Linked DNA regions of Homo sapiens: regions 1, 2, 4 and 5 are each linked to region 3. Evidence: fine-mapped expression QTL. A gene starts in region 3. Each other region holds a variant in brackets. All regions are shown on one strand. Distances are between the middles of the regions. Region 1 overlaps GCLC (glutamate-cysteine ligase catalytic subunit). Region 2 has its middle 12 kb from the start of KILH. Region 3 holds the start of GCLC (glutamate-cysteine ligase catalytic subunit). Region 4 has its middle 5.2 kb from the start of KILH. Region 5 overlaps GCLC (glutamate-cysteine ligase catalytic subunit).

What was found. PIP is the estimated chance that this variant, and not a neighbour inherited with it, causes the effect.
Region 1: its variant is the best candidate, but not a certain one, in a credible set for the expression of GCLC in left ventricle (GTEx, PIP 0.56).
Region 2: its variant is the best candidate, but not a certain one, in a credible set for the expression of GCLC in monocytes (TOPMed, PIP 0.89).
Region 4: its variant is the best candidate, but not a certain one, in a credible set for the expression of GCLC in whole blood (INTERVAL, PIP 0.73).
Region 5: its variant is the best candidate, but not a certain one, in a credible set for the expression of GCLC in testis (GTEx, PIP 0.64).

The regions. Positions count from the first base shown.
Region 1 is chr6:53,506,785-53,511,784 of GRCh38, forward strand. GCLC (glutamate-cysteine ligase catalytic subunit) reads right to left here. Exons shown (of 16, transcript NM_001498.4): 7 at 2,392-2,466; 8 at 1,811-1,927; 9 at 696-834; 10 at 129-241. GCLC-AS1 (GCLC antisense RNA 1) reads left to right here. Exons shown (of 5, transcript NR_183318.1): 5 at 14-127. Among named protein-coding and RNA genes, the nearest start is that of GCLC, 36 kb to the right of the region's middle. The variant G/GCTCCAC (reference allele first, on the strand shown) is at 2,042.
Region 2 is chr6:53,582,407-53,588,960 of GRCh38, forward strand. No RefSeq gene overlaps it. Among named protein-coding and RNA genes, the nearest start is that of KILH, 12 kb to the left of the region's middle. The variant C/G (reference allele first, on the strand shown) is at 2,544.
Region 3 is chr6:53,542,250-53,548,688 of GRCh38, forward strand. It overlaps GCLC (glutamate-cysteine ligase catalytic subunit), which reads right to left and starts at 2,852. Exons shown (of 16, transcript NM_001498.4): 1 at 2,247-2,852. The coding sequence starts at 2,396. RefSeq lists enhancers at 1-597, 1,536-2,277, 2,116-2,175 and silencers at 2,396-2,825, 5,893-6,122.
Region 4 is chr6:53,575,237-53,581,790 of GRCh38, forward strand. No RefSeq gene overlaps it. Among named protein-coding and RNA genes, the nearest start is that of KILH, 5.2 kb to the left of the region's middle. The variant G/A (reference allele first, on the strand shown) is at 3,235.
Region 5 is chr6:53,515,656-53,520,655 of GRCh38, forward strand. GCLC (glutamate-cysteine ligase catalytic subunit) reads right to left here. Exons shown (of 16, transcript NM_001498.4): 4 at 454-567. Among named protein-coding and RNA genes, the nearest start is that of GCLC, 27 kb to the right of the region's middle. The variant G/C (reference allele first, on the strand shown) is at 1,917.

The sequences.
Region 1 (5,000 bases), 36 kb before region 3:
GTGTTCTCCACAGGTACAGAAAACTGCCTCCCCATGTTGGTTTGTGAAGTGAAATGCATATAAAACAGAGGATTCCAGACTCTCAGAAGTCAATACATAAATAAATAAAAATAAAACTGAGAAGATACCTCAAAATGGTCAGACTCATTAGCATCATCCAGGTGTATTTTCTCTTCAAACAGTGTCAGTGGGTCTCTAATAAAGAGATGAGCAACATGCTGGGCCAGGAGATGATCAATGCCTGCAAAAAGAGATCACATGGGAACTCACTGCAAAGCGAGAGATACCACTTCCTCTTAGTCCAGAAAGACGACAGGATAGCTCAGGAAGTTTGAAGAAAGGGTGTCTAGAAGCTTGAAATAGCTGGTTTGATTAGTATCCTCACCTCACCCAGTATTTTATCCTGCGGACACTGCGGGAGTGTCAGCGTTTTATTCACTACTTACACAATGCCTGCTGGGGCACTGGTGTGGACCTAGACACAGACCTCCAAAGTAAGCTCCTTTTGCTAAAAATCAAGAAAATCTCACAAGTATTTGGAACCTGAAACTTTAGGAACAAGTAGCCTCATGAGAGAAGTTAAAGACTTTGCACTAAAAATAGAAACCAGACCAGGAGTCAGCAAAAAAGTGTAAAAGAGCTTTGAAGAACTAAAGGCGTACATTCAAACCCAGAAAGATGGAGTAGAAACCCACCTTCCTGCAACAGCTGTTCGTAGATCTCTTTATCTATCGTCAAGTCGATGTCATTATATTTCTCACCACACTTAGATAAATAGCTGTCTATTGAGTCATATCGGGATTTACTGATCCTATAGTTATTGTTCTTCAATGGCTAAAGATTAAAAATATATATAAATGAATATGCTATATAAAATGAGTGGAATATATTTTTATATATGATAATTATATAAAAACCTCAACATAAGATACAGAAAAAAAGTTAGTGAGCCCTAAAAAGTATTATTAAGGAAAATTATGTTTTTTAAAATCTGAAGGCAATTTAAATACCCTTTTTTTCTGGTATGATTTAAATATACTTTTATCTTTTAAAAGCAGATCACTTTCATTCTTATTAAGCTAGGGAAAATAAATACTAAGGTTAAAAGCAAATAAATAAATAAATCTATAACGTAAGATAAACCTATCAAAATAATTATCCTTTAAAGTTTATTTCTACTTAGAAAGCATGTTCAACAATTTATGAACAATTACATGAAGACCAGAGCAGTAGTAGTATAGCCCTGGTTGAGAATATCAAAACCACTTATGAGGGCTCCTTTAAAAACACCCTTGTTCGGGTCCCATCCTAGAGATTCTTATTTAGTAGGTCTAGGATAGGGTCTGGGTGTCTATTTTCAAAGATTTCCATGGGTGGTTCTGATGCACACCCCTTGTTGGAGAGATGCAAGGGTTACTTTACAGTTCAACATGCAAACAAGAGGTGCCATCTCACCCTTATTAGTCAATGCCTAACCTTTTACATGGAAAAAGAATCTCTGACAACAAATTATACTTTCCACAGCAGAAAGCACCATATACAAAACACTCATGTGGCACCAAAAAGCCTTTTGGTAAAAACAGCCATCAGCACTTCCAAAATATAGAAAAATCGGACTACTAATTTTAAATGAAGCTAAAACAAATACAGACATCAACATACGATAAAAATTAACTCCCCACCTAGACCAAATCTTTTTCCCCATTTCAGATAAAAATTGCAGGGAGACATCCTGAAATTGCAAGTAGTTACAAAAGATCCATTTTACCTGCTTGACTTAAAAGGGCTATTAAGGAAAAACAATTCCCACCTCCAGTCCTCGCTCCTCCCGAGTTCTATCATCTACAGATGCAGAAATCACTCCCCAGCGACAATCAATGTCTGACACATAGCCTCGGTAAAAGGGAGATGCAGCACTCAAAGCCATCTAAAAACAAACAAAAGTCAGCTCCTGCAAATTCAAAGTGTCACTTACATGCTAAAAAAAGCTCCATGCAGTTATATTTCTGATCAAAAAGCATGTTTATGCAACCCATACAGA[G/GCTCCAC]CACATGTACCTGTGCCTATCTTACAGTGAAATATACCAGGAAGAATCCAGTTCCTTGGGTTTGATTCACTTAAATCATCCTCTCTCTAATGTGAGGACATGAAGTATGGGGGAGGGAAAATGGCCACATTCAAACTTCACATTTAACAAATCAATGTTGTACTAGCAAGAGTAAACTTCTACAGTGTAGACTCTCAGTTCATTATACCTAAACCTACATACTATTTATATTAGTCCATCTCTGACTGAGGTCTTAACTGGACTTAAATAGCACACTGTCAGTAAATTCTGCACATGCTATCTTATTTCATACGAAGTAGTATTTAAAATAAGAGGTAATTTCTACTTACAACAATTGGACAGATAGTAGCCAACTGATCATAAAGGTATCTGGCCTCAGATATACTGCAGGCTTGGAATGTCACCTGTTTAAGAATTGCAAAGTTATTAACACCAAGGAATCATTAGCATGCTCCCCAAGCAGTGAAGTCAGAGAAGGAAGGTGCTGGGCAGAGAGGGGCAAGTTAACAACGCTTCATTAATGGCAACATTTAACGCAAGAGTTTTGTTTAAAAGTTGTCTTAGGTGAATTTAACTAGAAAATGGTATTTAATTATGTTCCACTGCCTATAGACAACTAATATAAATAACCAAGGTCCTAAGTGAAATAAGATTAAATAGTCAAAAAAGAAAAATAAGACACAGACATACGATGATGTTTAGCAAAGCATTTTCTCTTCTACTGGCTTGTTGCCTTCCTATCCCTTCAGTCAGTGAGGGATGCAAAAGGGATTTGGACATGTTAACTATTGTTTTCTTTCTTTCTTCCTTTTATTTTTTTGAGATGGAGTCTCACTCTGTCGCCCAGGCTGGGGTGCAGTGGCGCGCTCTCGGCTCACTGAAAGCTCCACCTCCTGGGTTCACGCCATTCTTCCGCCTCAGCCTCCCGAGTAGCTGGGACTACAGGTGCCCACCACCACGACTGGCTAATTTTGTTTTTGTATTTTTAGTAGAGATGGGGTTTCACCGTGTTAGCCAGGATGGTCTCGATCTCCTGACCTCATGATCTGCTTGCCTCGGCCTCCCAAAATGCTGGGATTACAGGCGTGAGCCACCGCGTCCGGCCAACTATTGTTTTCAAACTTCACTGGTGGCAGTATGGTGAAGAGCTTGGAAGGGGGAAAGACTAGAAAGACAGGGAAGCAGTTAAAATACTGCACCTGTCAAGGAAAAGGCTGAGGAAAGATGTGGGGAGAGTGATACTAAAGTCAAAGTAGCAGGCACTGGTGACCAAGGGGAGACTGAGAGTAGGGGATGGCTTAGGTTTTGGCTTGGGTGTTCAGAGGTTAGAGATAAAGAGGTGTCATGACATGATGGACTTACGAGGCCAAGAGAACAGACAGAAAAAGAGGCCCTCTAAGTGGCTAGGTCTTCAGGGCTGGTGCCCAGAAGAAAAACCCGAGTTGTAGAAAGACCTGGGGAGTAGGCTCAGAGAATGTCCTGAAGATGGGGAGATCACCCAGGAAGCCTGCACAAGGATGGTAGGTAGGACACTTAAGAGTTAGGCAGAGAAAAGATCATATAACTTGGTGAGCATAAATTCTTTGTTACCCAACAGAAACCAAAAAAAAAAAAACCTGCTTTTTTTTCCAAGACGGTAGAAGGGGCAAGGAACACAAATTGTGTTTGTTAGCACATTTGTAATAACTGCAAGTTGGGAACAGTTTTAATCTCCTCTGTTGTTATTCAATAATGACAGTTTGAATTTCATGTTGTTATTCATTAATGACAGCTTGAATTTAGTGTTGGTACACGACATAATTTCAGTGTTTAAGACTTGAAATAACAGCAGCTAAGTGAATATTTTACTGTTATAATCTCAACCTGTTAGTTCCAATGGTTTTAGCTAGATCTCAACTTTGTTTTCCACAGCAATGTCTATTGGAGACTCAAGTTTGCCTGCTCAATTATAACCACATTTCATGTCAATGTGGAGACTGTATTAACTAGTCATTACTAATTTAATAATTAATTCAACACAGAGAAAAGCTGTGTCATAGGCATCAAAGAATAAGAGTTTCAAAGGTTAAAGTAGACACAAATTGATAAGGGTTGGCAATTAAGTCACTGATAACCAAACCAAGGGCAGTTTCTGCAAAGAGGTGGGAACTTGGAAATCGCTTTGCATATGGCATGAAATTACATGAGCAGTGAGGAAATGGGAGCTGGTACCCAAAGTCTTTATGCACTTATTTGCTGAAGTAGAAGCTCCAGAAGGGCGGGGATCTTTCTTCCCATTCTCTATCCCAAGTGCGCAGGACAGCATCTGATACCTGGTTAGTGCTTAACAAATGAGAATCTTGGAAAAAAAAAAGTGGGGGGGGGGTGCTAAAGAGGATGACATGCGGTCAAAGGTATAGTGAGAAACCTGAAAGACCGGGACCCCAAAAGCCAAACTGACAAGGCATTGAGATTTTAAAAAAACCAAAAAACAAAAAACTACATGTTTCCCAAGTATTTTGACTAAAGAATTATTTTGAACATGCATCTCTTAGATTTTTTAGGTCTTTTTTGTGTTGCTCTTAGGTATTTGAGTATGTGTCATTTTTGTTTTTAAAAAGATACTATGAGAAGCAGGTTTTCTTTCCAGTTTTTCAACTGGCTTCTCTTAGATGGCCTAGTATACAATACATAATTCGTAGGTGAATCCTGGGAAATTCAACCCCAGAGAAGTATACAACAGTGAAGTGACTTAGTTATTTTAAATGCATTTAGTAATTAGCTTTCTTAGTCTACAGCTGATATGCAATCAAATTAAATAGGACATCACTGTGGATAATGGCTTTAATGGAAGGAAAAAAAGTTCTTATACCTTAAAAAGCTATGAATACATGACTAATTTGGGCTTCTAGTGTCGTTTTGAGGCATCATATGAAGGAGACACACAATGTTGCTAGGA
Region 2 (6,554 bases), 40 kb after region 3:
ATCTCCATTTTCATTTCAGGTTAAAATCAAGGAAATCAATTTGAACTGTAGCACGCAAGTTTTATGTTAATTACAAACATATGAAAAATGTTCAGTTTTAAGTAAGATAATGTTGTTTATTTTTCCCCCTGTCTTTTATGCCTCTAATTCTGCTATAAATCATATGTAAAAAGAATTTGGTGAGACGCAGTAAGAATTCTCATAAAATGCTGATGGGAAGGAAACTTCTGCTGACCATGAAGGATACTTATAGATACAGTGTAGCTACTCCCCCTGTGCTCCCACCCCCACCATATACCAGTGGTTCTTAAACTTTAACATGCATCATAATCACCCAGAGAGTTTGTTAAAACAGGGATTGCTGGGCTCCACCTCCAGAGTTTCTGATTCAGTAAATCTGGGGCAAGCCTTGATAATGTGTTTCCTAACAAGTCCCCAACTCATAGTGACACTACTAGTCCAGGGATCAACTCTGAGAATCACTGCCATATACCAATATTTCTCAGTACTGACTGCACCTGGGGATTTTAAAGAGAATACAACTGCCAAAAATTACCAGTGCTCAGGTCTGTTCCCACTGATTCTGATTTAATTGGTTGGGAATGAGGCCAGGATACCTGTATTTTATAAAAGTTCTTCAGGAGATTCTAAGGTATACTTAGGTTCAAGAAGCACTTCCTTACACTCAATCTCCACCCGTCATTCAGAGAAACTCATGTAGTTTCTGTTTCACCTTCCATTAAAGCCTTCAATGTTAAGCTATTATCAAGATATTTTTATATAGACTGGGATGCCTATTAGTCTTAGTCACCACCAAAATGTAAGTCACTAAGTATTTATCCTCTCCCTTACTCTTACTATTTCTCCATGATTTCTCTCCACTAATCCATACCTGCTCCTACTTTGCCTTCCACCATGAGTAAAAGTTCCTTGAGGCCTCCCCAGAAGCAGACGCCGCCATGCTTCCTGTACAGCCTGCAGAGCCATGAGCCAATTAAACCACTTTTCTTATAAATTACCCAGTCTCAGGTATTTCTTTATGGCAATGCAAGAAAGGACTGATACAGGTAATAAATCATTCATTCATTCAAATAAAGTTACCATAGTGTTGGGGATACAGAAAAGAGACAGCCCCTTAAGGAGCTCAAAGTCCTCAGAATACCCTTCCTTTATTGTGATTTAGTGCCACTTTTGAAGACAAAAAAGAAGTAAGAGTCTTATTTCGTGAACATGTGGCAAATGTATGACTCATTACGTTTATGGTTCCACTAAGTTTAAATTAGGAGGAAGTTCCTAATAAGTATTTTTAAGCAAAAAATAGTTGTGATCGATTGTAAAATTAGACACAAATTATCTCATCTCTTTATGGATACCCTATGCAATGTGAATTTGTGGTCTTCCCATCATGAGGTGAATTCTATTTCTCCACCTGGTGAATTTGGGCTTGGTCATGTGACTTGATTGGCCAATGGGACATTATTAACAAATAAATGCACTGCAAGTAGAGGCTTGAAAGGTGCTTGTGCATTGTTGGGGCTTGCTGTCTTGCTGCTCTTCGAGCCTTGAGATAACCATGTGAATGAGCCTCTGGATGAAGAGAGACACAGGGTCATGCCATCCCTGTTACTCCAACTAACAAACACCAGCCACCAAACCTAAGTCGGAGGCTCTCTTAGCCCATCCAACTCCAGCTGAACCACCAGCTACCATACAGATGTGTGAGTGAGCCAGCAGCCAGCAGCTGTGCAGGCCCAGACCGAAAGAACTACCCATTGGAAAGTAGGTGTTGGATTCTTTCCAATCCACAGAACCAAGGACAATAATACATGCTTTAAGTCACTACATTTTGGGGTGCATTGTTATACAGAATATATATATTCTATTGTTATATAGAATTTTTAGTTATCTTAAAATTTTTTAAAACTTAATTTAACCTGCTGTGACTACTGGATTAGGATGATTTCAGAAAGTAAAAATAGAGTCTTAAAATGTAACATTTCTTGCAGCTGGCTGTCGGTTCTATTGAATTTTTACCTAAGGATTTAAATGAATTAGTTGACAGAGATCTTTATTTTTTATTATCTCTGGTGCACAGCGTGAAGTTGAAGTTGGGCGAGGGGTAAAATTTTCGGTTAGTAGCTGGATGAAAGATCAGCCGATTCTCCCAGCTTTTAGTCTTGCTCTGCCTAGTACACTATCAGTCAGCATTTGCTTAAGGAGTGGTTGGTATTTACTGCTTTTCAGTTCAACAACAGGCTACTTTTTAAATATAAAAATTACCACTCTGAGTTCTATCCACCATCCACTCATCTCTCAGTCACTCATTCCTGCTATGCAACGGCTCCAAGGGATATATTCTAGGAAGCCATAATTATAGTCCTTGGCTGTAAATCCATTGGATGCAGCAGTTGTCTCTGTGCTGTCTCTCTCTCACTTGCCACTCCTCAACCCATTGTAATCTGGTTTCTGCTCTCCCATGCTAATGAAACCTTCTCACCAAGGCCACAAAGAACCTGGTATTGCTAAATCCAATGGATACTTCT[C/G]AATTTCTATTTTAACCTCTTAGCAGCATGTGACATTGTTGATCACTCCCTTCTTGAAGAACGTTACTCCCTTTGCTTCTGCTATACCACTATCTTCTGCTCTTTTTCCTGTTACTCTGACCATTCTACAGTGTCTGTTGAGGGCTCTTTTGTATCTCCCCATCTTTAAATATTGATGTTCCTTCAGCTTAGGTCCTGGGCCTTTTCCTCTTCTTCCTCTACACACTCTTCCTGTGCAATCTCCTCCCTTGCATAGCTTTGATTATCTTGTATGTATTCATCTCTTCCAAAGCAATGTCTCCAATTGAAGTCACTCTCCTGACCATCAGAAATCCAGCCATCTACTGAAAAACATCTCTTGGATATCTCTCAGGCACCTACCTCAATCTCAGTATGTCCAAAACTGAAGATTGAAACCTCCGCTTCCCCCACCCGCACACTGCTTTTTGCTCCCTCAGCTCTTTTTGTATCCCATCTGCAGTGTCTGACATGGCTGTTTACCTAGTTACCCAAGAGAGAAACCCAGGCATCATCCTTGAGTTCTTCCATCTCCAGTTCATTCATATGTCCCACCAGTTCTATCCCCATGAATAGTTCTTGTTTAAATCCAGTTCTCCTCATCCGCACAGCCACATTACCATGTTACCCAGCCCCGAGCCATCCTCTTCTCTTGCCTAGATTATGAAGCAGCTTTGTAACTGGAGCACTTGCCCCGGCCTTGCCACTTCCCCTCCATTTTCCACACAGCTGTCAGAAAGACCTTAGAATGCAAATCTGGTTATGAACGTCCCTTCTGTTAAAACTCTTTAATTTCTTTCCACTTCCCTTTGTATAAACACCCATACAGTTCACGATTTAAATTAGGGGAATGATTCATAATGTGCCTAACTCTCCAATCTAATTTCTTCCAAACTTTGTCATCTAGCCAACCTAATTTCTTTTGGTTCATCAGTGTTCTCTTCACCTCTCAGCATTTGAATATGTAGTTCCTTTTGTCTGGAATACTCTTCTCCCCTCCCTCCCCTATTTGGCTTGACTAACTCTAATTATTCTTTCAGGGTCCAGGTTACATGATCCATTTTCTGAGAAGCTTTCTCTGATGTCTCAGGTCTGGAAACCCACCCCCTCCAGCACCTCCAGGGATTTCCTCCATCACTGTTTTCTGAAATGTGTGCTTTTCTCCGGGAGGCAGACCACATGGGATTTTCTCAACTTTAAAGCTCCAGCAACTACCACTGGCCCCGGCACACATCACCCTCATAGTTGTGCTGAATTTAATTAAATGTTAGGGTTGTTTTTCCTTTCTCTCTCTTTATTTATTTATTTATTTATTTATTTATTTATTTCTCTTTCTTTGTCTTTTCTTTTTTTTTTTTAGACAGGGATCTCATTCTGTTGCCCAGGCTGGAATGCAATGGTGTGATCCTGGCTTATTGCAATCTCCTCCAAAGACCAAATCTCCCAGGCTCAAATGATCCTCCCACCTCAGTCTCCCAAGTAGCTGGGACTACAGGTATGTGCCACCACCCCTGGCTAATTTTTGTATGTTTTGTGGAGATGCAGTTTCACCATGTTGCACAGGTTGGTCTTGAACTCCTGAGCTCAAGTGATCCTCCCACCTCGGCCTCCCAAAATGCTGGGATTACAGGCATAAGCCACCGTGCCCAGCCAGAGTTGTTTTCAAGTTATCTATTTCTTGTAGCAAATTAATCTGAACATTTCACTAATGAAATTATTGTATGTGTTCTTCACTCTAATTATATATTTAGACTGTAACAATATTTTAGATAATAATGTTATTTTTCTTTATTGTGGTAATTGTAATTGGCTTTTATTCTTCCAAAGTAATTACTTTTTGTTTTAAAATATTTTCTCTCTTTGATGTATCTAGATTATGTCAATATGGCTGTCTTAAATGACCACATTAGAAAAAAATTAAAAAGGAGCCAGGGCAGTGGCACACACTTGGAGTCCCAGCTACTTGGGAGGCTGAGAGGGGAGGATCACTTAAGCCCAGGAATTCAAGTCCCAGCCTGGGCAACACAGCAAGACCTCATCTTGAAAAAAGAAAAGAAGAGAAAAAAAAGAAACAGGCCAGGTGAAATTAGTTTTAACAGTATATTTTATTTAACCCAATATATCCAAATTATTATGATTTCTTTATATAATTATGTAAAAATTAATGAGAGATTTTACTTTTTTTTCTTACTAAGTCTTTGAAATCTGATGTGTAATTTACACTTTCAGTCCACCTCATCTTGGACTAATCATTTTCAAGTGCTTAGCCACACATGGCTAGTGGCTGACATATCGGACAGGGCAGCACTATACTCTTCTCAATTCTCAAGTATTCTAATCACACAGTTTTCTTCTCCATCTTTCTCCTTCTCCATCTTTCTCCTTCTCCATTTCAGAAAATGCACGCTCCCAAATCATGTGTCTCTAAGCTAAGGCCCAGCCTTTCAAAACTGAAATGCCAAACATTTGATTCCATTGTTATTTTCACTTTGCCAGGTGTTACCTGCCCTGAAGCTTTAAAGAACAATGCCCTGGATGACTTAATCTGAAAGGGCAAGGAGAGCATGGAAATGTGAGTGGGTGCATGTGAAACTGTGTTTAAAAATATTATCCAGCCACACCTATAGTAATTTCTAGAGCTTAATTTCTCCATTTACTTTCAAGAGCCCAATTTCTCCATTTACTTTATAGAGCTTAATATCTACCTTATAGCATGTAGCAATCATGTAAATAGCAAAAAATGATTTGTTTTCTTTATAGTTTTAGTTTTGAATTGTCTATGTTGAAAATCAAATGTTTGTTTTCTAAATTTTTGTATAGTCTTGAAAATATTTTTCCAGTCTGCCAGAGTTTTTAACCTCCAAATTTGCTTGGCATGTTTCACCCCAAACTGTCTAGCATGCACTGAAAAATTATAATTTTGTAAAATAAAAGATCACAGTCGCAACTGTTTGGTGACTCCTCATGGTTTGCAGTTTTATTTTTTTTTTACTCTGAAAAGCACATGTTTATTTTTAGCATTTTTCCTTTTTTAATCTCAAAAAGATAATTAAAATCAGGAGGACCACTTGTGAAAATCTCTATGTGTAGATATTGCTAATATTCTGGACCCAGGAAAAAGATGGGTTGAGGGCATTTCTCTATAGTCAATTTTTTTTTTTTTTTTTTTGAGACAGAGTCTCACTCTGTCACCCAGGCTGGATTGCAGTGGTGCCATCTCGGCTCACTGCTACCTTCACCTCCCGGGTTCAAACAATTCTCCTGCCTCAGCCTCCCAAGTAGCTGGGACTACAGGCATGCACCACCATGCCTGGCTAATTTTTTTGTATTTTTAGTAGAGATGTGGTTTCACCATGTTGGTCAGGTGGGTCTCCAACTCCTGACCTCAGGTGATCCTCCCACCTCGGCTTCCAAAGTGCTCGGATTACAGGTGTGAGCCACCGTGCCCGGCCGAGAGTCAAATGTTTTTTAATGTTTACTAGGTACTGCGTGGCAGTCAGGCCCACAGAAGATGAGGGTACAATTTGAGAGGCACATGAGGGCTACAAACGAGAGCATGTGTGAACTGTATGAATAAGTGTTTGTGATTGGTGGGTATATGGGGCACCTTTTACATTTCACTTGGCATCAACAGGTGCAGATACGTCCTGGTAATGCCTCAGATGCACCGCATATCTCACGCTGTTCTGTTACTTCTCTGTTCTTGCTGTGTGGGTGTCCTCAGAAACCCACTGAGACATTGTGACAGATGCACACACTTGAAGTGCAAAAGAATAACACTCCAGGGGGCAATCTGACCTGGGGGATGGGAGCCAGGGTATAATATGAATGTGTATTATGCATATCTCCTTCCTCTATGCTTCAGAAGGATAATTCTCAGTGGCATTTTACACAGCTCCTCAGAGCTCCTGGTTGCCTGCAGCAGTGACTATCTTGATTATGTATCCGGGGATTGGCTCTTTCCCCAAGTTCCCTCATCTGTTCCTTGGGATC
Region 3 (6,439 bases):
CCAATTTTCTCTCCTTTATAGATGCATAATACAAGTTTGCATTATGGCCACTCTTTTCCAAGCCCCTTGATCTTTTGGAGTGGGAAGGAGGTAAACCTATTGCAAATCTCTCCATGAAAGCCTGTTAAAGCAGAGACACGTACTTCAAGGCTCTACTCTTCAGCTCTTCCCACTTCAATTTACCCAACAACTACAAAAGTTACTTAAAATAGGTAGTTCTAAATGCTCTTCCTGCCAACAGGAGAGGCCTTTTTTAAAAGGGTAAGATTAAGGATTCCTGGAGTGTCTTGCAGGAATACACCAAATGGGACAAAGATGGATAAGGGGTGGTGGGGGGTGGGGTGTTGTCTCCAGAAGGAGTTGCTGAGCTCCAACTGTGCTGCAAATTTCCTGTTGATGTAGTTCTACCTGGGACAATGACTACCAAAGACTTGAACTGCCTGTCTTTGTAGAGAGACCTAGTTAAATGTCAAAAGCAGCACAGGGCCCGGCACATTGGCTCATGCCTGTAATCCCAGCACTTTGGGAAGCCGAGGCGGGTGAAAAGTCAGGAGTTTGAGATCACCCTGACCAACATGGTGAAACCCTATCTCTACTAAAAATACAAAAATTAGCTGGGCGTGGTGGCAGGCACCTGTAATCCCAGCTACTCAGGAGGCTGAGGCAGGAGAATTGCTTGAACCCGGGAGGCTGAGGTTGCAGTGAGCCGAGATCACACCATTGCACTCCAGCCTGGGCGACAGAGCAAGATTCTGTCTCAAAAAAAAAGAGCAGCACAAAAAAATGTCAAACTTTGAACTGCTCTACAATGACTAGTTACCATACAGTGGGAACTTGAAATAGTAGTTCATTCACTCATTCATGCCACAAGGACCTGATGCCAACTACACCAGGCACAAGGCTGGGCTCTAGGAAAACAGAGGTGAACAAGCATAATGTCCCTGCCCAATTTCGTCTTACATTTTCCTGTGACACACAATACAAAAATGAATATACAAAATGGCAGATGCTGTAAAGAAACTATGAACTTTACAGTAAAACTGAAGAATCATCACCAAAACACATGCTGTGCTTTTTCTGTTCAAAGAAGTGTGACAAACCACTTTTTGTAGAAATGTGAATTACTAGTCATCATACTTTCCTAATTTAAAACAGCACAATTTCTTCAGCTGTAGGAGGTAGAATCCCAATCTTAGAAAAAAAAAAAAAACTAACTTTTTGAAAGGAGATATTCTGCACTGGTGTAACAGCACGTCAGCACTTAGGCCAAGATTGATAACAACACTGGCCAAAAGATAAACAATTTACACAGGTGGCAAGCCATCTAAGGCAAAAGCTAAAAACAAAAACAGAGATGGACTTCTCAAGAAGTCATTTAATGTGTACTGCATACACACGTAATTTTCAAAAACAGAAAGGGAAGGCACAAAAAGTTTTGGCAGATGACACTAAATCAACAGTTTTAACATTGCTGCATTCCAGATCATTCCAATAAACAATGGTTCAACCTACTGAGAATCTAGAGACATTTCATCTCTAGGCAGAACACTGGTTTGTAAAGTTTAGTTGCTGGACCTAGGCCATGGAAAGACACAAGCAAATCCTAATGTTGAAACTCTAAATGCATTCCCACTTAGAATTAAACAGGAAAGGGAAGGTTCCTCCCCCATGTAGGAAACTGAGCCGTAATTTACTGGTTTCAATTTATAGCTATGAAGTGTGTGTGTTTTGGAGGGGAGGGAAGATGAGAAGTTGGAGAGGTTTAAGGAAAAGACACCTGCATGAGGTAGGGCAGAAGTGGACATCCTGAAGACCTGATTTCTAAAAGCAGCAGGCCTACTAGGAAAACTTAAATCTCTTTCATATTGACCGCAAAAGCGAATTTTGAGCCTGTAAGGTGGATCATGGTAGTTGCCGGTCTGCAGATACACTAGGTTGAAGACTCGCAGCACCTAATGTCACTTTTTCATGCTCACGCCCTCCCAGCGCCCAATCCGTGTTTATGGAATGAAGGGGAAAACCCAAAAGAATGAATGAACAAGAAAGGAGTCTAGTCAGGAGGATGGCCCTGGACGCGGACTAGGCGAAAGCAGGGACGATGCTCCCGGGGCCGGGAGGCGCTCGAGGACCCCCGGGCGCAGTGGAGAACGCGGACCGCGATAGGGCCGGGGGCGTAGGGCAAGACAAAGGCAGCGCGGGCGGCCAGACACGGGTGCCCGGCGGGGACGGGGACCGCGGGCGCTCACCTCATCGCCCCACTTGAGAACGTCCTTGTGCCGGTCCTTGACGGCGTGGTAGATGTGCAGGAACTGGAGGATCCCGTGCCGCCGCACGTGGTCGGCATGGCGCTTGGTTTCCTCCCAGCTCAGCGGCGAGCCCTGGGACAGCAGCCCCATGGCCGCCCCCTCCTCCTCCTCCTCCTCCTCCGGGCTGACGGCGGTCGCCCGCTCCGGGCGCGAGACGGACACTCAGCCGCCCGCAGAAGGCGGCTGCCGCTCCACCCCGCGGGGGCGCTCTCGGGCCGCAGTCGGCGGAGGGAGGGTCCTGCCCGCTCCGGCTCCCCGGCGGCGGCCCCTGGCGCCCAGGTGACAGACCCTGGGTCCGACGCACCGCGCGGAGGCGAAGGCAGAAGACCGAGAGCAGGCGGGACGGCTCTCGGCCCGGCGGCCTCGCCCTCCCCGCTGCTCCTCCTCCCGCTCCGATGCGGCGGCGGCGGACCCCACGGCCGCGCTGCCGCGGCGGCTCCCGCTTCTCTTTGCCGGTCTGGTGCACTGGCTTCTTCCTACTTGTGACCAAAACCTGCGCCGCCGCGGAGCATGCCCAGTCTTTGCGTCCGCTAGCTCGCCGCTCCTGGGCGCGATCCTGCGCTCCAGGTTTTATAGACTACGGGCGAAGGCGGGGAGAGGAGGCGGTGCAGCGGCGGAGGCGTGGCCTGAAGCCCGGTGGGAACCGCGGGGGCTCAGGAGGCGTGTGCAAGGGTGATTGGGTCGCAGTTGAGGGGAGCAGCTCGCGAGAAGGGGGCGTGCGGTCGGCCTCGCTTTACGCAAACGCGACATATCAAAATGCATTTTTTTTCCTAATCAGAAGAGATAAACTTGGGATTCGGGAAGAAAGTTGATTATTTGAATCAATGACGAACTCACCATATTATGTTTTAGTTGGACAGGGCCTCACACTTAGAGTGAGAGCGGCAGAATGTGTTGAGAAAAGTATTAACATGGTAGTGAAGTGAAACAGTTCAACTCTAGGCTCCATCACTTACTGACTGTGAGACTTGGGACGAGTTCTTCCCATATCTGCATAAAATTAGATTAATTCTATCTTTTATAGATGTCGTAATTATGTGCATAGTGTACATGTGTATAGTGTTGGCCAAAAAATTGACCTGGTTATTAAGAGGAATCAATTTGTCAACATGTGTAAATCATTATTCCCTACTGTCTTGATTAACTGGTGACCTATGTTCTCTGGATGGCACGGACACCATTTATTGCAAAAAGTCTCCAGACAGACCATATGAGGAACCATCTCCAAAAGTTTATCCTCCATCTAAACCTAAAATTCATCCCTTAAGTGATCAAAATGACGTTCTTGTGAGCCTACCGTGGGGTGGGGTTGAAGATAGTGGGAACACCTAGAGTTGGCCTTATCTCGGAGGGAAAGGAGAGGAAGGAGGTACCGTGCCCCCAAGTGATTGTTTAATAAATATGTGTTGACAGAGCAATGACCTGTCAGGGGAAAAGTGAAGGCAACTAGATCATACATGTACCTACCCAGAAAGTGTGTATTTATCATACCCTCTTCCCTCGCACTACAGAGTTAACATTTAGTAAGCACTTATTAATTGCTAAATGAGTGAGTACATGATAGCAGGATTCTCTTCTCCCACAGCCTTCATATTGGATGTGCCCCTCACAGGGCTTGGGGGCATGAATACCCAAGGTCTGGCTGGGATTTCCACAATGGTGTGTGTGTGTGTCTGTGTGTCTGTGTGTGTGTGTCTGTGTGTGGTAGGGATGTTTGAAGCTCAGGAGAAGATGTTTCCATCCTCATCACACAGGTGGGATAGAAATCAAACCACATTCTAATTTTTCCACAGCCTTTTCAACAACCTCCTTTGCCCTCCCACCAACCTCACCAGATCTGTATATGGTTCTGGCACTCTGTTGTTTTTCCTGCTTGAAATTCTCCATCTGACACACTCATGTTCATCTCTTGAGTCACAGTTATTCCTCTCTGTGTTTTGGTTGCATTCGTACATTAATGATAGAGTCATTTTAAAGATAGCTCCACACTAAATAGTGAATTCCTCTGGGGCACAGATGACTTATGCCTTTTGTACCTTTAATTCTAGAAAAGTGCTTGGTATAGAGTGTGTGCTTAATAAATGTTAGCTTCTCCGTGAAAAGCAGGTAGTGGGAGAGGGGGAGAAACAGTGTTTCCCATGTAGGTAAGACATCCAAGGATCATTGGGTTATTCTCATAATGTCATCTGACATTCTCATAGACCTGCATTGTTCAACACGACAGCCATCAGCCACATTGGCCAATGTACATTTGAAATGTGGCTAACATGACCGAGAAACCAAATTTTCATTTTAATTTAATCAATTTAAATGTAAATTTAAAAACTGATATTCCATTCAGTTACTGGAAAACTTTTAAGTAAATTTGAAACAAGTTGGAAATGTGAATCCATTTTTGACTGTAAATTTTATGAAATGTAATTACAGATCAAGTATTTCCAATGAAAACTTAGTGGCCCAGATGTGTTGTGAGTGTAAGTCACACACCAGATTCTAAGACAGTAGAATAAAAAGATGTAAATATCTCATTAAAAGTTTTATATTGATTACATAGCGATATAGCATTTTGGAAATTTTGAGTTAAATATGATGTGGTATGTTATTTAATTTACCACCACCCCCACCCACTTTTATTTTTAATTTTAAAGGAGGCTACTGAAAAATTTAAGATTACATATGTGGCTCTCATTCCACTTTATTGAAACAGTACTGATGTAGACCTTGATTTACACTTTGCAAAGCAGTTTTCCCATACACCTGCTGCACACCATACACTTTTCCCATGCACCTGTTAGGAATCATGGACCTGGGCGGTTCAATAATAGACTAAATTCTAGTCTAGCCAAAGCCCTACGCGACACTGAACCTAGTAAGAGTTTAACACTGTAATTGGAGTTACTCTGTCCTAGATCCCGGCTCACACTCACATAAGGGACCTCCCTCACCCTATCCTACCCCCCCGAATTCTGAACCAGCTCCCCCAGCGGGGGTCCCAGAGCTTTGGACAATCCCAAAAAGGGCGCCGGCGCTGCTGCACCACAGGGCAGTTATGCCCAATTTAAACCTTGATCTCTCAGTGTCTTTAGCCTTTTCTGTTACAAAGAAAAAACAAAAATCCCATCACGGATCAACTGAAGTCATATTTAACAAGAGTTACTCCCCTCTGACAATGCTTTGCCTGCATAGGTCCACTACTGCTCGATTTCATTCTGTAGACTGCACCCAGGGCCAGGTTTCGACATCTGGAAGTGAGTTTTCAGCAGACAGCTCCATCAGGGCTGTAACGATAGCTGAAGGGGAAAGAAGGAGCTCATATCTTGCAGAATCAGCTCTTCCCTAGACCATGACCAAAGGCCGATTCCCAGTAGTGTCTTCCGCGGAAAAACGCGAGACCCGCTCTCCAGGAACCCATCTCTGCCCAGCGGCGCCCTGGCACCGCAACCTCGCCTCGCAGCCCCGCGGACCAACACAGGCCCCGCCCCCAGAGCCGTCCGGAAAACCTGGACCGTGGAGATCCGCATGGGGGGACGCCGTGCAGTCGTGAGGCCAAGCTGAGCATGCTCGGAGAGCCGGCCTGTCGCGGGAGGAAGCGGTGTGGGCCGCGGGCGGCGCACGCCGCGCAGTTGTTGTGATACAGCCCCCGCCACGTGACTGCGCGGGCCCGCCTCCCCCGCGCGCGGCACCGCCTCCCCGTGACTCAGCGCTTTGTGCGGGCTCCGAGCCGGAGGTCAATCTGGGGGAGGCTTCTTAGGGCAAAGTCTCAGTCCATCACTCCTGACCTCTGGGCTGCTGCTGCTGCTAGGATTGCCGCAGTCGTTTCAGACACGATGGGTTTCGGGCCTCCAAGGACCAAAAAATACATCATTTTCTCTGTGGTCACGCCATTCCCAGTTTCCCTTGAGTCAGCGGCTTCGCGAGATCAAATAAGGAAAACAGAGAGAGTGCCCAGGGGACTCTGAGGAAGGCACTTCTAGGTTATCTGCCCCTGCCTTTACCGCTCTCTTTGGCTTGAGTATCCCTTGACCTTGGTGGTCTGTCGCTTGGGTCCCAGTATATCACATTCTATGCCAGGCACTTTGAGCTGGTATCCGTAAAACAGTACTAATCTTTGCCACATTTTATAAGTGAGGCAA
Region 4 (6,554 bases), 33 kb after region 3:
ATGAAGAATAGGCTATACATGGTGAAATGAATGGAATGCTTACATCCCCCCTAAATTCATATGTTGAAATCCTAACCCTTAAACTGATGGTATTAGGAGGTGAGGGCTTTAGCATGTGATTAGGTCATGAAGGTAAAGCACTTGTAATTGGAATCAGTGCCTTTACAACAGGGACCCCAGAGAGCTAGCTAAACCCTTCCATGATGCAAGAACACAGCAAGAAGGCACCCTCTATGAACCAGAAAGTGGGCCTTCACCGGACATGGAATCTGCTGTGCCTTGATCTTGGACTTCCTAGCCTGTAGAAATGTCATAAATAAATTTCTGTTGTTTATAAGCTACCCAGGTTATGGTATTTTATTATAACAGCCTGAAATAGACTAAGACACATGGTCAACAATAGATATTTAATTTTGATGGGATGTTAGTTTTTCAAGGTGGGTGAAAAAATAAGCTTAAAAAGGTAGGCCAAGACCAAATTTAGGAGACCTTAAATCCTTAAATGCCAGCCTTTGGACTGACATAGGACTTTTTTTTTTAGAGTCTCATTCTGTCACCCAGGCTGGAGTGTAGTGCCGTGATCTTGGCTCACTGCAACCTCCGCCTCCCAGGTTCAAGTGATTCTTGTGCCTCAGTCTCCTGAGTAGCTGGGATTACAGGCATGGTGTGCACCACCACGCCTGGCTCATTTTTCTGTTTTTAGTAGAGACAGGGTTTCGTTATTTTAGCCAGGCTGGTCTCCAACTCCTAGACTCGAGTGATCTGCCCACCTTAGCCTCCCAAAGTGTTGGAATTACAGTCATGAGCCACTGCACGTGGCCTGTTTTGTTTTTCCTGTTTTCATTTTCCAGTTTTCCTGTTTGTTGAAGATTGGTCCAATTATACTCCTTAGTTTATTTCATACTTTGGCCAATGGTCTGTGTTAGGCTCCTCCTTCTCCATCATTCATTCATTTTTATTTTCTTTTATTTCTGCCTTTGATTTCCATCCCCATCACCCACCAATGGCAGCAATTCTTGGGCACTTGATATTTATGCTTTTCTTTGTATGTGTCTTTATTATATAAATACTATTGTATGCATGCTTTAAAAATATTTTTCTGCCAATCGCGGTGGATCATGCCCAGCACTTTGGGAGGCTGAGGCAGGCAGATCACTTGAGGTCAGGAGTTTGAGACCAGCCTGGCCAACACAGTGAAACCCTGTCTCTACTAAAAATATGCAAATTAGGCCAGGTGCGATGGCTCCGCCTGTAATCCCAGCACTTTGGGAGGCCAAGGCGGGCGGATCATGAGGTCAGGAGATCGAGACCATCCTGGCTAACATGGTGAAACCCCGTCTCTACTAAAAAAAAAAAAATTAGCCAGGCGTGGTGGCGGGTGCCTGTAGTCCCAGCTACTCGGGAGGCTGAGGCAGGAGAATGGCGTGAACCCGGGAGGTGGAGCTTGCAGTGAGCCGAGATCGTGCCACTGCACTCCAGCCTGGGCGACAGAGTGATACTCCATCTCAAAACAACAACAACAACAACAACAACAACAACAAAAAAAACGAAAATTAGCCAGGCGTGGTGGCACGCCTAGAGTCCCAGCTACTCAGGAGGCTGAGGCAGGAGAATCGCATGAACCCAAGAGGCAGAGGTTGCAGTGGGCTGAGGTCGCCTCACTGCCCTCCAGCCTGGGCAACAGAGAAACAGACTCCGTCTAAAAAAAAGAATAATAAAAAGTAAAAATAAAAAATGGAAAATCTCAAACACAAAAAAGTAGAATATTATAATGAACTCTCAATTATCTACCATCCAATTGTAATAATGATAAATTATTGCCAAATCTTGGTTTATCTCTATCCCCATCCACCCATTCCTTCCCCTCAGGTTATTTTGAGGAAAATCACAGATATTATATTATTTCATCTGTAAATATTTTAGTATAAATCTTTAAAAGATACGGGCTTTTTGGGGAGGAAACATAACTTGAATGCTATTATCTTCCTTAAAAAAGGTGGTAAAGGCTGGGCACAGTGGCTCGTTCCTGTAATCCCAGCATTTTGGGAGGCCGAGGTGGGAAGATCTCTTGATTCCAGGATTTTGAAACCAGGCTGGGCGAGATGGTGAAACCTCATCTCTACAGAAAATACAGAGAAGTTAGCTAGACATGGTGGTGTGGGCCCGTAGTCCCAGCCACTTGGGAGGCTAAAGTGGGAGGATTGCTGGAGCCCAGGAGGTCAAGGCTGCAGTGAGCTGAGATAGCACCACTGCTCTCCAGCCTGGGTGAGAGAGCAAAACCCTGTCTCAAAAAAAAAATTGTAGTGAAAATTTTGAAAATATTTCTTAAATAAGTGGTGTTCACATTTCCTCAGTATTTCTGCAAAATATCAGAGGATGTTAAAATTATTAAAATGTATAAATTTGGGCTGGGCATGGTGGCTCATGCCTGTAATCCTAGCACTTTGGGAGACTGAGGCAGGTGGACACTTCAGTTCAGTAGCTCAAGGCCAGCCTGGGCAATACAGGGAGATCCCGTCTCTACAAAAAATACAAATAATCAGCTGGGCATAGTGGCTCGCACCTGTGGTTCCAGCTACCTGGGAGGCTGAGGTGGGAGGATTGCTTGAGCCCCAGAGGTTGAAGCTGCAGCGAACTGTGATTGCACTACTGCACTCCAGCCTAGGCAACAGAGTGAGACCATGTCTCAAAAAAAAAAAAAAAAAAAGAAAATCTATAAATTTGGTGAGTTGCCCTGAAGAGTTGGAACTAAGACTTCTTCGGTTATGTTGAGGCTGGTTCTGGGAACATTGGAAATACTGCAAACTGGAACCAACTGTTGCTACTGGAACAATACTGCTACTACTGGGGAGAATAGGGTTGGTGTGATGGTAATGGTTCCCTTTTAGATTTTTCGGTTCTTTAGAACCCGGCTAACTCTGTTTCTGCCTCCTGTATGGACTCACCCTGATGCTACCAACTCATGTCTTTTTGTCTCCTCCTCTCCACTACTGTGTTGATATTATTTAGAATTTTAGTTCTGGATTATTATGCTATAAATATATTTTTATTTCTCTCTCTTTTCTTTGTTCATTTTTGAAAATAAAAACAGCATCTGAATTTCATATGTCTTTATCAGATAAAAATTCTATTTTTCATTTATTATGTTTTTTGTTAAAAAACAGCTTTATTAAGGTATAATTGACATATAATAAACTGCAAATATTTAGAACGTATGTTTTGGAAAGTTCTAAC[G/A]TAGGTATACACTCTTGAAACCGTCACCCTAATCAAGATAATGAGCATACTTATCTCTACCTTCCCCCTCCCGCCACCGTCAAACTTCCTTGTGTTGCTTTGTAACCCTGCTCACCCACGCCTGCCTGCCTGTTTCCCCTGTTCCCAGGCAACGACCCATCTTCTTTCTATCACTATAGATTAGTTGCATTTTCTAGAATTTTTTATAAATGGTTAAAACAGTATGTACTCTCTTTTATCTACATAGCATAATTATTTTGATGTTCACTTATGTTGTTGCATGGATCAATAGTTTATTCTTTTTATTGCTGAATAGTATTTCATTATATAAATGTGCTACAATTTGTTTATCCATTCGCCTAGTAATAGACATTTGGATTATTTCCAGTTTGGACTATTACAAATAAATTTGCTATGAACATTTATATACAAGTCTTTTGTGAACATATGCTTTTTTTTCTCCTGAGGTAATTCTTTGGAGTCGAATTCTGGATCATCTGGAAGGTGTATATTTCACTTATTTATTTATTTATTTAGAGACAGGGTCTTGGTCCGTTGCTGAGGCTGGAGTGCAGTGGCATGATCTCGGCTCACTGCAACCTTCACCTCCCAGGTTCAAGTGATTCTCATGCCTCAGCCACCTGAGTAGCTGGGATTACAGGCGTATGCCACCATGCCCAGCTAATTTTTTTGTTTTTAGTAGCGATGGGGTTTCGCCACGTTGACCAGGCTGGTCTTAAACTCCTGTCCTCATGTGATCCGCCCACCTCGGCCTCCCAAAGTGCTGGGATTACAAACATGAGCCATTGCCCCTGGTCTGTATATTTACCTTTTTGGGAAACTGCCAAACTATTTCTAAAGTAGTCATATTAATCTGTTCGCTTTGCTTGAGGCTGGGTAATTTATGCAGAAGGGAGGTTTATTTGACTCACAGTTCTGCAGGCTGTACAAGCATGGCACTTTGCATCTGCTCAGCTTTTGATGAGGCCTCAGGAAGCTGTTACTCATGAGGTGTAGGGGGAACAGGTGTGTCACATGGTGAAAGCAGTAACAAGAGAGATGCCAGGCTTCTTTAAACAACTAGCTCTTACACAAACTAATAGAGAAAGAACTCACTCATCACCAACGGGATCGTGCTAAACCATTCATGAGGTATCCGCTCCATGATCAAAATACCTCCCACTAGGCCCCACCTCCAACATTGGCGTCACATTTCAGCATGAGATTTGAAACTATATAAGTAGTTGAGTCATTTTACATTCCAACTAACAGCATGTTAGAGTTCTAGCTCCTTTAAAGCTTTGGCAACAGTTGGTATGGTTAGTGTGTGGTGGTATTTTATTACGGTTTTAATTTCCATTTCCCTAATGACTATTGGTGTTGCCTGTCTTTCATGTGCTTATTTCCCATCCATCTACCTTCTTTGGTAGAGTATCTGTTCAAGATAAACCACATTGTGCACCATAAAATGTCTCAATAAGTTTAAAAGGGTTTAAGTCATATAAAGTGTGTTTTCGGACCACAATGTTATTACATTAGAAATCAGTAACAGAATAATATCTGAAAAATCCCCAAATATTTGGCCCCAGTGTTGCTGTTAAGAAATCTGCTGCCAAATCTTCTTGTATCTTTGGAGGACATATGCTCTTTTTTTCCTGGAAGCTTTTAGTATTTTCTCTTTCTCTTTGTTCTTAAATGTGCAATAATCTTTCTAGGTTCTTAATCTCTCCTATTTGGCATGCAACCCTTTCCATCTGACTTCTTTTATCTTTAATTTAGAGATAATTGTTTTTGTTATTCTCTTAAATATTTGTCCTCCCTTTATGTTCTCTTCCTTTGGACTCCTGTTTTCAGGATGTCAGCATGTCTACTTTTATCCTCCATGGTATTTAACTTTTTATTTCTGTATTTCTCTCTTTATCTTTTTTTCTGCCTTCTGAAAGATGTCCTCAGTCTGCTCTTTCAGTTTTACAATTTTTCCTTTGGCTGCATTCAGCTTGCTATTTATCCCATCTAGGAGTCTTACTTGGAAGCATAATTTTTTATACTTTATGTATAATGTCTGTCTGTCTTTATGACTTTTTTCCTGCTTCCTATTACCAGTAGCTTTTTGACAATATTGATTGTGCTTATTTTGTTTCAGTTGTTTGAGACAGTCTCACTCTGTCACCCAGGCTAGAGTACAGTGGTGCAATCTCAGCTCGCTGCAAACTCCACCTCCCAGGTTCAAGTGATTCTCCTGCCTCAGCCTCCCGAGTAGCTGGGATTACAGATGGCCACCACCATGCCCAACTATTTTTTGTATTTTTCGTAGAGACAGGGTTTCACCATGTTGGCCTGAGTGGTCTTGAACTCCTGACCTCAAGTGATCTGCCCACCTCGGCCTCCCAAAGTGCTGGAATTATAGGCATGAGCCATCGTGCCCAGCGTGGTTGTGCTTATTTTAAATTCTTAATTTGTTTGTTCCAGTATTTCTGCTTGATATCGTGTATGTTCAGTGTGTGTTTTTCTTTTTGCAGTGGTTCTAACCTCAGGTATTTTAAGCTGTGAGCTGATGTTCCCCTGGAGTTATCAGGTACCAATGTGACATACCAATACCAGGTCCTACTTTCTGTGTTCCTTATGGTTTTAAGATTAAGGAGTTGAGTCCCAGAGAGTCCCTTAGGTGTTGGAACGATAGTCAACAAGCCATCTGTTGCCCCTCCACTAGGCATTACTCTGCTAGGGATTCTCCTCTAAAGCCTTTGAAAGGGAGCCGGTAGTCATCTCATAAGTGATGCACCATTTACCACACATGAGGAGGACTGGAGGAGTGAGTGCTCAGGGAAGCTGGTCAGCCTCCCCTTTTTAGCGTGGGTGATTGCTGCTGCCTCCTGACTCACAGTGGTTATGGGACAGGCAATGGTCCAAAGGAAAGAGGAGAGAAAAGGAGAGCAGAACCTAGCAGCACTCTACCTATTATTCTAACTCTGCATTCCTCCCCACCCAAAGTTTATGATGGCCTTTAGTGTCTCCAGGAGTTTCTCACAGTTTTTTTCTAGGGCTGATTCCCCAGGGCATCTGTGGCCTGTGCCTGATCTTGTCTGTACTTCAGGGGCCAGCAGTGGGGGATAGGTTACTGAAAGTTTTTGAGTTTTGCTGTGAGAAGATTAATCTTTCAGCAGAGTGCAATAAAAGGAGGAAGGAAACCCTGTTACTAGTTTAAGTAAGCAATAATGGAGATCTGGATTAATAGTTTGTATGTTGAAGTGAGAAGATTTTTTTTTTAAGTATAAATGATTTATTTGTTAGTTGAGCCCAAGCTTGAAGAAGCTGCTCTT
Region 5 (5,000 bases), 27 kb before region 3:
GTTAATGGAAGAGAGTGCCTATTATATATATCAGGTACTGCACCTATTTTATAAGTTATATAGAGTAAGATGGGCAAATCACAGATACTGATGGTTAGAGAGGACAAAAAAGGAGAAATAACTAAGAGAAAAAAAAAATCCCAGTAGGCATTTACAGACCTAGGACTGAAAATAATCTCCCTATTAAAAGAGTTATTCGCAGTGGCTCAGCGAATAACTTTGTGACGACTTGGAGAATTGACAAATCAAGCCTGGTGCACGCATCAACAACCAAGAAGCCTGGGGGTACTGAAGATGTGAACAGGTGCACATCTGCTATCTTCTCTGGTTACTTAGGAAGAGAGCCAAAACTCAGTTAATGCTCAAAAAGGATTTCTAGACAGAAATACTATACTCTCAGAAGTCAGGGGTCTAGTGAAGGGCATCTGCATTTCAACACAAAGCCATACTCACCTGAAGCGAGGGTGCTTGTTTATTGCTTCATCTGGAAAGAAGAGGGACTTGGAAGCTCCTCCTTCCACTGGGTTGGGTTTGACCTCGGGCAGTGTGAACCCAGGACAGCCTAATCTACAACAAATTGAAGAACTAAATAGATGGGATTTGTTTTCAAGAATTAATTGTGTGCAGTCTTGCCATCACTGCACCTGCCAAAGACACCTCATTTCTAGTATCCCCTTTTCAGAGGGCTTTGTGTTTACAAAACAGATGTTGTGTAAATACTGTGCCCCTTTACAACCACTCCCCACACTTCTTGCTCACAAGGATCTTCTTTTAATTCCAGCCCACTACTAACTTTATCCAAGTCTCCACTCACTCACAAACCACACAGCACTTACTCGGGTCCTCTCCATCTCTTCATCTAATAGGAAGGACTGATAGCACAGAAGTCATTTCCCTTGGTCACATCAGCTGTCATGGGTGACAGGTGTCCCCTACATGGCCTATGAGGTGTCTTCCTTTTCCATCTCTAAACTCTCAGATTATCTTTGGACCTGCTGCATGGCACCACTGCCTCCCACTTCCTGGTAGGCTCTGAATCTGGAAGGAGCCTGTTTTTTGCCTCTATAGGTCACCTCATGAGTCCCTCAAGATTAGGGAGTGTCTCTGCAGGTGTCCCCATCTACCCCTGAGATCACCCTCTGAAGTCTGAAACCCAATCCTATTCTCTTACTTGACTTAAGGAGCTCTAATTTCAACACAGAAAAATGAAGCTCCATATTTATTCCTAAGTGTAAAGCTCAAATTCTACATCACTTTTAGTGATGGCCCCAGTTTTTCCAAGTTAGGAATTTGAGGTCAATATTACATGTGCTGTGAGGGAGGACAAAGACTAAGCGAAAGCCAAACAAGGGAGGAGTTTTAAATTAGTGGGAAGAAACTTTTGGCTTGAGGATCAAGACTAGCTCATATCTTTTAAAAAAAAATTTTTTTTTTTTTTTTTTTTTTTCTGAGAAAGGGTCTTGCTCTGTCTCCCAGGCTGGAGTGCAGTGGTGCAATCATAGCTCAGTGCAGCCTTGAACTCCTGGGCTCAAGTCATCCTCCTGCCTCAGGCTCCTGAGTAGCTGGGATTACAGGCATGAGTCACTGTACCAAGTTTTTTTTTTTTTTTTTTTTTTTTTTTTCCAGGGACGAGGTCTCACTATGCTACCCAGAATGGTCTTTAACTCCTAGGCTCCAGTAATCCTTCTGCCTCAGCCTCCTAAAGTACTGGGATTACAAGCACGTGCCACCTCACCTGGCCATCAATGCCTTATTTTTAACCCCTACCTTTTCTTAATATAAAATAAAGTATCTGTTGCCTGCCCAAATCCACCTTGTAAACAATTGAAGGTAGTGATCTTATCTAGAAAACAGTTCCCAGCTACAAGGGTTCTTGAGAATTCTTGAAGCTATGTGCATTATTTACTATGAGCCTA[G/C]AACCTTAGGAATAGTCCTTTGGGAGAGTAATAAACTTAAATCTGAGGGGATTCCTTGCTCACCAGAATCAGATTGGATGAAGAGAGAATGAGAATGTGTTTGTGTGGAAGGGAGAAGGTAGAATCAGAACTTGCATCTTCGGACACCTACGGCACTGCTTCATTCTAGAGCAGTGCTGTCCCACAGAACTTTCTGGAGTGATGGAAATGTTTAATATCTCCACTATCCAAACCGATGTGGTAGTCACTAACCACGTGGCTACTGAGCCCTTGAAATGAGGCTAGTTCCTCAGTCACATCAGGAACTACAATTTTCATTTTATATAATTTTAATTTTAAATAGTCACATGATTACTGTTTTGGACTAGAGTTCCACACTATAAATCTTTGCATCTTTATAAAGTCACCCTGTTTACACTTAAGAACCAGAGCACTCCTTTCTCTCTTGATCCTATACTACAACAAAACTTTATCATTTATTGTGGATGTATAGGGAGGCTTCTAACCACTAAATAACTAATAATTATTGTTTCAAGTCCCAAAATACCTTCCTATATGGACAGGGTATAAAAAATTATACATATAATTTTTTCTAAATTACAGGTTTTTAGAATAAAGCTTATTCCTCTGTCTCAACTTTCCCTTCACAATGACTTAAGATGCTGAATCTTTTTATTTTTATTTATTTATTTATTTTGAGACGGAGGCTTGCTTTGTCACCCAGGCTGGAGCAGAGCGGCACAATCTCAGCTCACTGCAACCTCCACCTCCCAGGTTCAAGCGGTTCTCCTGCCTCAGCCTCCGGAGTAGCTGGGATTACAGGCGCATGCCACCATACCTGGCTAATTTTTGTATTTTTTGTAAAGACGGGGTTTCACCATGTTGGCCAGGCTGGTCTCGAACTCCTGACTTCAGGTGATCCGCCTGCCTCGGCCTCCCAAAGTGCTGGGATTACAGGTGTAAGACACCATGCCCAGACACTAAATCTTTTTTAAAAAGGCAACTATCCCATATGGAACCATTCTCAAGGTAAAGGGCACATTAGGCTTAACCCAAAACTTTATTTTCTGGCCCAGAAGGAAACACCACTGCCCATCAATCCTATATATTCTTCAGCTTTAATATATAAAACAGTTCTGGTTTGTGTTACAAATCCCCTCCCACTTTCTTAATTTGCTAAGTGAAATGTACAACCCTCTTAATGTTAAGGGGAAAAAAATGAACATATAAGGTATTAAATTTTCCAGTTCACTAGAAGTTGTCATTTAACATCTGTAACCTACTCCTTGGCCTCTACTCTAGTACTCTTAAGGTTTTCAGGACAATGACCTATAGCAAAAGCCTTGATGTGTCTTCTCTCCCCAGCAGTTCACTGACTCTGTCATCTTTTAAACCACCCACTTTTCCTATCACCAGCACCCACGGGCATCCAGGCAGCCCTTGTCTCCCCTCAGGGAGCTCCCTCACTCACCTCCTAGTAAGCCCTGGCACCAGCTCCACAGCTACTCTCACACTACAGCCCAAGTGAGGGCTGCAAAGCAAAAAGGGGATGCCATCTGCCCAACCCAACCTTTCCAAGGCCTTCAACTGCTTTTAGGAGAACAACTAAAATTTATGGTTAACCTGACCTGGCCTGCCAATTACCTGCCAGCTTCCCTTTACCCCATACCTGCACTTCCTCCTCAGCCTCCTAGTCACACTGGCCAGCTTGCTTTCTTCTAGTTCCCAGGAAGTCCCCGCTTGTTTGGTTCATCCTAGGACTTCTACACACACTGCTCCCCCTCCCTAAGACTGTCCTCCGCTCCTCATTCCTATTTCACTCCTCCTGGAACCTTGGACATCCCACCCCCTCCCCCTCCACCCACCAGAGTCCACTGGATACCTAGGTTGTACTCTTTGCTCCCCATCTCCTCCTGCTAGCACAGCCCCACTTTGACGCTTATGAATCTATGGGTATTTGATTGTTCTTCAACCCCCCAGCTCCACAGAGACAGAGCTGTCCGTCTTCACTCATGAGAGCATGCCCATTCTGCCTGCAGCAGGCACTCAAGTGTCTGAGTGAATGGCAGGGCCAATGATTTTTCACCTCCTCTTTCAAACATTAGGTCGAAGAAATGTGCCCACTCTAATCAAAACAAATCTGTCCACCCTCACCCAGCTGGGTTTTTCCTTCTGGGGGTGGAGAGAGAAGTGACCTGTACATACAGAATGAAGGTATCACAGAAATAGAGATGCTTCTATAAATGTTAGATGGCTGGCTTAAATAAGTTTTCAACTATTTAGATGTTACAGTAGAGATATAAAAAAAAAAATAGAATTCCCATTTAAATGCCCCTCTGAGGCCAATGATATGACCCTGAATGGCTGACGGACACGTATCAGAGAAAAGGTATAAAAATAGTTCAAAGTGTTCTCCACCATTGATACCAACCCCCAGAGCTCCTTTGAACTTTGAGGAGCTAAGTATACTGTCACCATCTGACAGACATCTAGCATAGATAAATCACATTCATGTTTTGGCAGAAATGTATTTTTACATAGAGGTTCTATGTATAATACATATGATATTCATGTACCTCATTCTAAGCGAAGAACATAATTTCACTATTTACTTTTATGTACTTTTGGTCATAACTAGATTTGATGACAAACCCTAAATCTTCTTTTCAGAACAATATGCAAGGACCTAATGACTCACGTTGTTCATAGAGCATCGGTATCGATAGTGCTTTGGGAGCACTGCAGATCCTCTGATCTGCCACTGATGCCACCATATGCTAGCAGGTAAATGCTGCTTTTTGAAAGTGCATGAGGGCGCAACTGTCACAGTCACCAGGGGACAGCATTCCAGAAGCTTTGGCTACTGCTTACAGGGTCAGAACTGTGTGGCAGGCGTGCTGCTCCCTCCACCCTCGCCTGCGGCAGACACGGCCACACTGCTGGTCTGTCATCACAGTATCCTGGTCTTTCCCACTGAGCCCCCACTGAGTGCACTCACCACGGTGCAGCCACCACAGCTGACAGAAGCTGGCATGCAACTGTGTCTGCAGCTCTACTGTTACAGAGTCTATCAAGTGCAGTCTA